2 separate regions of the Homo sapiens genome follow, and region 2 is linked to region 1. The links come from fine-mapping of genetic effects on gene expression. A gene starts in region 1. The other region holds a variant in brackets. All regions are shown on one strand. Distances are from middle to middle.

What was found. PIP is the estimated chance that this variant, and not a neighbour inherited with it, causes the effect.
Region 2: its variant is the best candidate, but not a certain one, in a credible set for the expression of NSF in monocytes after R848 (Quach 2016, PIP 0.83).

Annotation. Positions count from the first base shown.
Region 1 is chr17:46,588,238-46,592,763 of GRCh38, forward strand. It overlaps NSF (N-ethylmaleimide sensitive factor, vesicle fusing ATPase), which reads left to right and starts at 2,432. Exons shown (of 21, transcript NM_006178.4): 1 at 2,432-2,550. The coding sequence starts at 2,539. It also overlaps a transcript of LRRC37A2 not described here.
Region 2 is chr17:46,759,299-46,763,561 of GRCh38, forward strand. It overlaps WNT3 (Wnt family member 3), which reads right to left. Exons shown (of 5, transcript NM_030753.5): 5 at 3,208-4,263. It also overlaps a transcript of LRRC37A2 not described here. Among named protein-coding and RNA genes, the nearest start is that of WNT3, 57 kb to the right of the region's middle. The variant G/T (reference allele first, on the strand shown) is at 2,022.

The DNA of each region.
Region 1 (4,526 bases):
GATCCTTCCTCTCCTGCTGGATGCTAAGGACCTTAAGGACAAGAGCTATCTTTGCTTGCAATTTATTTGGCAGGCCCTGCAGGGCTGTGCAAATGATTCTATTTAATTTTTACTACTTGTGAGAAGGCACAGAGGGCTTTGAGAGGGCACAGAGGGCCTCTTATAATGGGTAGATATGCACATTAGCTGATACACTGGAAACTTTCCAGCAGGCATATCCTTCCAAGATGATAAATATTCTTCCTTGTTGGAGAAATTGAAGACATTTGTACTTGCAATCTAGCTTATCTAGTAAAACAAGACAAACTAACCAGTGATAGGGAGAAACATGTTTGCATTATTTTCCAACCTTGAAAATAATGTCAGATTATTGGACTGAGAACCAATGTCATCTTCTGGATCTGGTAATTATTTGGACAAAATCTCTTTGATTCTAGGTTCAAAGTCAAGGTGTCAAAAAAAAAAAAAAGGATACAACTGTTAAGCTTATTTAATTATACCTCTCACTGTACAAATAAGGAAACTAGGCCAGGCGTGGTGGCTCACTTCTGTAATCCCAGCACTTTGGGAGGACAAGGCCAGTGGATCACCTGAGGTCAAGAGTTCGAGACCAGCCTGGACAACATGGCAAAACCCTGTCTCTACTAAAAATACAAAAATTAGCTGGGTGTGGTGGCAGGCGCCTGTAATACCAGCGACTTGGGAGGCTGAGACAGGAGAATAGCTAGAACCCGGGAGGCGGAGGTTGCAGTGAGCCGAGATCATGCCACTGTGCTCCAGCCTGGGTGACAGAGTAAGACTGCGTCTCAAAAACAAACAAACAAAAACAAATAAGGAAACTGGGCTCAGAGAGATGAAGGTACACAGGTGATGGGTAGATAGGGACAAAGAAAAGAACCTAACCCTTTGGACTCCCCAAGCCATTCTAATATTTGTTTTTGTAAGTTAGTAGCTTCTGCACGTTAGTATGTCAGAACTCAACTAGTTTCCTATCTTTCCTGATAACCTCTCCGACCCACCCATGATTTAGCTAACATCTGATTTGGTCAACCAAGCACCCTGGTCCTCAGGTTCAGTGTGAGACTTAATGAAATAGGCGTGAATTTTTTTTTTTTTTTTTTTTTTTTTAGACGGAGTCTCGCTCTGTTGCCCAGCCTCGCAATCTCAACTCACTTCAACCTCTGCCTCCGGGGTTCAAGCGATTCTCCCACCTCAGCCTCCTGAGTAGCTGAGATCACAGGCGCCCGCCACCACGCCCGGCTAATTTTTGTATTTTTAGTAGAGACGGGGTTTCACTATATTGGCCAGGCCGGTCTGGAACTCCTGACCTTAGGTGATCCACCCAAAGTGCTTGGATTACAGGCATGAGCCACCGCGCCTGGCTGGCATGAATTTTTTCTTCTGTCCCTAGTTCATCTTCAGGTCACTGTCTGATTTTATTAGTTCTCAAATTTAAATCACTATGCATGCTCAGCTCTTCTAGTTATTTCCCTTCTTTCCTCATGTTGGGAAAAAAACCCCGATTTATTCTAATTGTGAGAAATGAAAGCGAACAAATCCTATCATTCCCTATTGTCTTGTGCAAATATGAAGAGAGATATGATAGTGGGGTAAATAAAAGCATCAGGGAATCCATTCGGCAGAATCTTTCTCCTCTCAGCGTGCTTGCAGTTAGATATTCTGAGATTCCAGTGGAGAAATGGTATGGTGGAAACATTGAGGTTCAACAAGGCTCAATTTAGGGCATATTTTATTCAGATTCTACCATATATATTGTCTAAAATGAAACAACACTGGGGAATGAAAAGGTTGGTCGAAGATGCAAGTTGCCTTTATTAAATAAAGACAAATATTTAATAAAAATAATGTATAAAAATAATCACAATTCACTTTCAAATCTGAAAATACTGAGTTTTCCAGGCTACACATAAATAAAACTGCCAACGATGACAATTCCAGCAACTAGGAAAACAAGTACGCCTACAAAGAAAAGTGAGAAAATTCATGGAGAATTTGAACTCAGAACCAACTCCTCGGAGCTGATCTTTTTTGGGGGAAGCCAGGGAACGCGCCGGGCGCTCTCATCAGCAAGACCATGTTTAAAGAGAGTGTGGAAGCACAGACCAAAATGGACATTCGAGGGCGAACAGCAGCTGGCAAAGGGATAAGTGATCCGAAGCATTAAAGCCCTTGAGACAAATTCCGGCGCGAACCGCCAGTGGGGGATGAGACTCGCAGGCGCAGCCCTCCAGGCCCCGGCGGACTGACACGCACGTTGGAAACGGAGTCACCCACCACAGCCCCGCAGCTCCAGCCAAAATGGCGCCGCCGCTCTGCCCACCCCGCGCACCCCAGGCGGCCGCCGAGCCCGCGCGCGCGCCCTGTGGAGCGAGGACGCCGGGGACGCGGCCAGGGACGCGCGCGTCCTCACGGCGGTTGCACGCCTGCGCGAGGGCGGGCGGCGGGGGCGCGCGCGCGGCGGGGGCGGGCTTTGCCGAGCGCAGAGCTGCAGCCGCCGAGCCGGACGTGTCCGCGAAGATGGCGGGCCGGGTGAGTGCCGGTCTGGGAGCCCAGGCTTGAGGCAGGGGCGCCGGGCTCGCGGGCACTCTGGGGTCCAGGCGGCCCCAGAGGAGTGGGAGTGAATCCGAGCAATGGGGCGCGAGGCCAGAGCGGGACTTGAGGGTAGCAGGGGAGCGGTGGCAGGGGATTAGCCCTCCTCAACAACTCCACCCCCCTCGAGGGGAGATGACCCCTCGTTACACGCGTCTGCTGCGCCTCCCGTCATCCTCCCTTCCCATCCCTTGGGGCTTGTTCCCTCGTCCTCCACACAGCCGCAGGGTCGCGGTCGCCGAAGCCCCCTCTGACGGGCTCTGGGGGTCTTTCCGCACCCCCTTGCGAGGGCTTATTAGGGGGCGCCGGAGTAACTGCCGGGAGCACCTCTGCTGCATTCGGGGCAAGGGGTGTAGGAAGGATCTTCAGGAACCCATGTCTGGCTCTTCACAAATTAAAGGTCGTTGGGAAAGAGGAGGGGGTGCCAATGACTTTTAGTGTTAAAGCCCGGCCATCTGGGGGACCTGTCAACTGTCGGGTCAGGCAGGAATTGGCTTTAGCTTGGAGTGAGGATGGATTTGGGGTGTCACGTTTTGTTTTTATGGATGACACTCGCTTCGAATGCAGCAGGATATGCTGTAGTTTCAGGGTTTTAAATTTACTTCCTCCTTTAGCCTTTAGGATCGTTGGGTAGGATGGGTTTGGCGAGGAGAGAGAGCTGGTTGAGTGCTGTATTGCAGTCTGCCTTGAGCTAAAAGCTCTCAAGGGATGAGTCCTGCCCGGAGATTACACTGGTCATAAACCTGAGGACATTAACTGCGTCATTGGGGGTGAAAGATGTGATTGACTGATCTATTTATAACAGAATTTTTGAATAAGTTTGCATAGATTTATGCATATATGCAAATGCCCTATCTGAAGGGACTTGTAGGTCATGAGATTCTAGAGTAAGAAGGGATCTTAAAGGTCATTTAGTTTGGCTTCTTTCTCTTCCTTTTCCCCATGGCCTCTCCTTTTAAGGCTAGTCCTTCTGCCAGTACTTCAGACCCTATCTGTATATTCACCTGCTCCTTCTTAACATAATCAAGCTTCTCTATCTTAAACCCTTCCCCCACCCCCACAGCTGTCACCTTTTCCCGTCCCAGTTTACAGCAGGAAATTTGATAGAGTTGTCTATATTTATTGTCTTCCATTTGCTTACCACCTACTCACCCTTCAACCTACTGCAGTCTGATTTCTGCCCCATCATCCCACTGAAACCTGTCCCTCAACTTAATTGATACCTTTCAATCCTTATCTTATTTGATATCTCAGCAGCGTTTGACGTTGTTGACCATGGCTTCCTTGACGGAAAGCACTCTTCACATGTGTTCTGGAATGCCTCGCTCCTGGTTTGACTCAGACCTCTCTTTTGCGGCCTCACCCTCCTCTACTTTGTTATTCATTGCTGGTATTCCTCAAAGGCCGTCTTCTCACTCTCAATTTCCCGCTCAGGCAATTTCTTCTAAGCCCATAGCTACAACTGTCTATATGCCAGTGATTCTCAATATTTTACCCCCAGTCCAGACCTGCCCTTTAAGTTTCAGGTTAATATGTCCAACTGCTTATTTAAAATCAAGGTCCCGAAACGCAGCTTTTTCAACTCCGAACCCAGGATCTTAGCCCACCTAACTTGTGTAGATACTCCTCGACTTAACGATGGGGCTACCTTCCGATAAACCCATTGTAAGCTGAAAGTATCAGAAGTTGAAAATGCATTTAATACACCCGATCTACCGAATATCATAGCTTAGCCTAGCCTGCCTTCCTTACACATGCACAGAACACTTACATTAGCCTACAGTTGGGCAAAATCATCTAACATAAACCTATATTATAAAATGTTGAATACCTCATGTCATTTATTACTGTGCTGATAGTGAAAAACAGAATGGTTGTGTAGGTCTTCAAAGTACAGTTTCTGCTGAATGCCTATC
Region 2 (4,263 bases), 170 kb after region 1:
ATCAGCTGGCAAGCCGTACTGAGACTGGGTCCTGGAGACGAGCCCACAAGGGTGTGTGCTGGACGGGCACCATGGCATAAAGATGCGGGAGATAGCGCCTGTGATTGGCAAGCATCCCAAGTGGGTGAAGACAAAATATCCAAGGAGGGATCATGTTTGAAATTTTCCCAGCGTAGACGCCATGCAACTTCTGTCTCACTATTTTGGGAGTATAAGATTAATGGTAAGAAATTTTTGCCTCCTAGAAGGTTCTCTATTAAACTAGGAGAAACAGTGGCAGTGTAGCAGCAATGCGTAGCTGCACTGACTTCACTCGAGTGTGCAGACCAGCCACACACACAAGAACATGTCCCTATGCCCAGGGCCACCAGGGGAGACGGCATTAGGTAACACCAAGAATCATGTCGCCATCATGTTTCCTTGCTTTTCTTTTTCCCTACCTTCTTTCCTTCCACCTTTCTTTGTACCTCATCCCCTCATCCTTGAACTGTCTCACATGCTTTCCTTCCCTTCTTTCTTCATAAAATAATATTGCTTTGAAAGATATCTTCTAATTATGTCGTCTCTTTCAGATTTTTAAACAACGTCCTCTTGTGTTTAGACGTTTGTAAGTACTTATACATAAGGAGAAACTACATGTTCAAGCACAGCTATCAACTGTATTCTCCTTAACCATCAAATAAGACTGGGCAGGGTGTGATGGCTCACCCAGTAATCCCAACACTTTGGGAGGCTGAAGTGGGAGGACCCCCTGAACCCAGGAGTTTGAGACCAGTGGGCAACACAGCAAGACCCCATCTCTACAAAAGATTTTATTTTTAATTACCATAGTAGAGTGCGCCTGAGTCCTAGTTACTTGGGAGGCTGAGGAGGATCATTTGAGCCCAGGGGGTCAAGGCTGTGTTGAGCCATGATCATGCCACTGTACTCCTGAGTGACATAGACACTTGTCTCTTAAAAATTAAAAACTAATCATACGATTACAAATGGTCTTCATTAGTATGAATAGGGACCATTTAAATATTTGGCAATCTTATTGATTGAAAAAGTACTGGCCAGGCAGGGTGGCTCATGCCTGTAGTCCCAATGCTGAGAGGCTGAGGTGGGAGATCATTTGAGGCTAGGAGTTCAAGACCAGCCTGAGCAACATAGCAAGACCTCATCTCTAAAAAAAAAAAATTAAAAAATTAGCTGGGCATGGTGACACATGCCTATGGTCCCAGCTACACGGGAGCCTGAGGTAGGAGGTCACTTGAGCCCAGGAGGTCAAGGCTGCAGTGAGCCATGATCACACCACTGTACTCCAGCCTGGGCAACAGAGGAAGACCCTATCTCAAAAAAAAAAAAAAAAAGAAAAAAAAAGGAAAAAGTACCTAGAATTCTGGGATAGATAAGTTCAGTCGAGCATCCCTAATCTAAAAATCCAAAATCTGAAATGCTCTAAAATCTAAAACTTTTCAGCACCGACAGGATGCCACAAGTGGAAAATTCCACACCTGACCTTGTGTGACAGGTGGCAATCAAAATTCAAAATGCAGTCTAAACTGTTTCATGCACAAAATTATTTAAAAATTTCATAAAATTACCTTCAGGCTATGTGTGTAAGGTGCATATGAAATCAATGAATTTCGTGTTTAGACTTGGGTCCCATCCCCAAGATACCTCATTGTATATATGCAAATCTTCCAAAGTCTGAAATATTTCTGGTCCCAAGCATTTCAGAAAAGGTGTAGTCAACCTGCATTAGCTTTATGCAAAAGAAAAATAAAAAGTCGAAATGAAATAAAAATGACCAGACTGTAAGATGTAGAGGAGATCTGTATCCTGTACGTGTCCGATTCGTTGTATGGCTGAAGTGTAACAGTTTTTGTGGTTTCAGCTTTTCAGGGGCTAAAGACACATCATGGACAAAACAGAGTGCATCAACTTCTGGTGGCTATTCCTAACCTCAGGTCACAGGTCTGAATACAGCGCAGAGCAGCCCGCCTCCACCATAGGCGGCTCATGGCTTTATTTTCCTG[G/T]TTTTTTTTTGTTTGTTTTTTTTTTTTTTTGAGATGGAGTCTCGCCTTGTCACCCAGGCTGGAGTACAGTGGTGCGATCTCAGCTCATTGCAACCTCCGCCTCCCAGGTTCAAGTGATTCTCCTGCCTCAGCCTCTCAAGTAGCTGGGACTACAGGCATGCACCACCATGCCCAGCTGCTAATTTTTGTATTTTTAGTAAAAACGGGCTTTCACCATGTTGGCCAAGCTGGTCTCGAACTCCTGACCTCAAGTGATCCACCCACCTCGGCCTCCCAAAGTGCTGGGATTACAGGTCTGAGCCACCCCACCCAGCCTGTTCTCATTATTTCTCTTCGTAGTGAGGTAAGATTTGTTCCTAAATGAGGTAGGTCAGGAGAAATAAAAAGAAAAAACATTTTTGTTATTCTCTGAAATAATGTGCTGAATAAACCAAAGGTGACATTTTATGGGTAGGTCTGAAAACTAAAGGATTGTCTGTTGTCATAAAACCAACTTGTGGCATCTCATTGTTGAGAAGGCATAACCTGTGAGCTTCCAGTGGGTCCTGTGAAGTGGCGATCTGAGAGGGTGCCCATCCCCAGAGCATGCCCACTGGCAGGCCCTTTCTACCCAAACCCAAACCCAACTTCAAATGACAATTGTTCCAGACAGCCCACAGCCCAGGGCACACGCTTTCTTCTTGTAGACCAGCCTACCTCCCTCTACGGCTTAGCTCTCACAGTGGAGCTAGCAGGGGACAGACAATTTTCAGTCAAGTTTCATTTTCAATAGAGAAAATCCTATTTTCCCATTAAATGGAGTTGAAAACGTGGTGAGGAGGGGATTAAGGCAGTGGCCACCCCTGCGGTCTGCTGGCCTTGGGCCACATCTTTTAGGAGTGCCTGTGACATTAATTTATACATTGAAAATACTTGAGTCTGTGAAATGAATTAGTACACAAGTTGTTGTTTTCTAAAACTGGAAATTCATTGTTAGAAGTTAACTTAGAACAAAAGAAGCCTTTAAAAATGTACTGTGGTGTATCAGACCCACTGTCCGTGACATCTCTGATGATCTTGCTTAGAAAACAGAGGAAATAACCTTCACTTGGTCATTTAATTAGCTGAGGCCACCATGTTCAGAATCTCGTATCCTTGACCTCCTGAGCATTAATCTGGAAACTCCACACAGTGTACAATGTATCCATTTTAGGTTTGTTTACCTTCTCTTTAATGACTTAACAGAAAAAAACTGCATGATGAAATATATTTTCTCCAAATATATATATATTTATATAATATATAATCTTAGTTAACTCAAAGGTATATACATTGTATAATAAATAATATTTATAAAAAGAGACTTTTTGAATATAAAATCAAAAAGATCAACAACTTCTACAACTTTTTACAAAACTTTGGATACAGCAGGTTGGTAGGAAATTTCGGTTGGATACTATTACCTGACTACGGCGAGAATCATTACAATGCACTCATGTACTATTATTAAATAATTACTTGTCAGCTACTTGAATACGCCCCAGAAACATGACTTTATCACTTTTAATATAGAATACATAGATATGAAAAGATTGTTTTGAAAATTCGTATCCATTCTGCTGAAGTATTCTCACATAAAGCAAGTATTATCCAGTTGACATGATTTAAAACTTTTCAGTCTAAGGTGAGATGGGGAGGGGCATTTCAGACTTGGCGGAGGGGGTGAGATGTGTATCTTTAGCAGGGCTTGTGGCCAGCAGATTTAGAAGTGAAGGCGGGCTCCTGGACGACCATCTTGGCAAGCCCACCTGCACCAGCTGGGAGATCGCTGCCCTGGTATTTTAGGTCAGGGTTAGGTAGACCCCAGAGAGAAGGGGGAGAAAGAAAAATCTTTGTTCTGCTCATTCCCCTGCTGCATCTCTTCTTTCTGATTCTCCCTAAGACAGTTGTTGAACCAATTCATACTGTGAAATCCATGTGCCTCCCTTTTGCTAGCTTTCTCTAGGACGCTCAGCTGGACCAGTATGCCTCAGGGAGAACTCAGCCGTGAGATGCTTCACCTAAGGGAGTAGGTGACTGCTGGTTCCCCTTTGAACTTCTAATCCAGATCCTTGGGAACTGCATGGATGGAAGCTATCTCAGCATGCAGGTGAGGGAGGAAGAGCTGGGGGAAAGAACTCTGTGTCTGTGTTTACTCACATTGGCCCCAGAGAGGAAAGGACACAGTAAGATGGGTCCGTATTGGAGAGGAAGCAAAGGGATG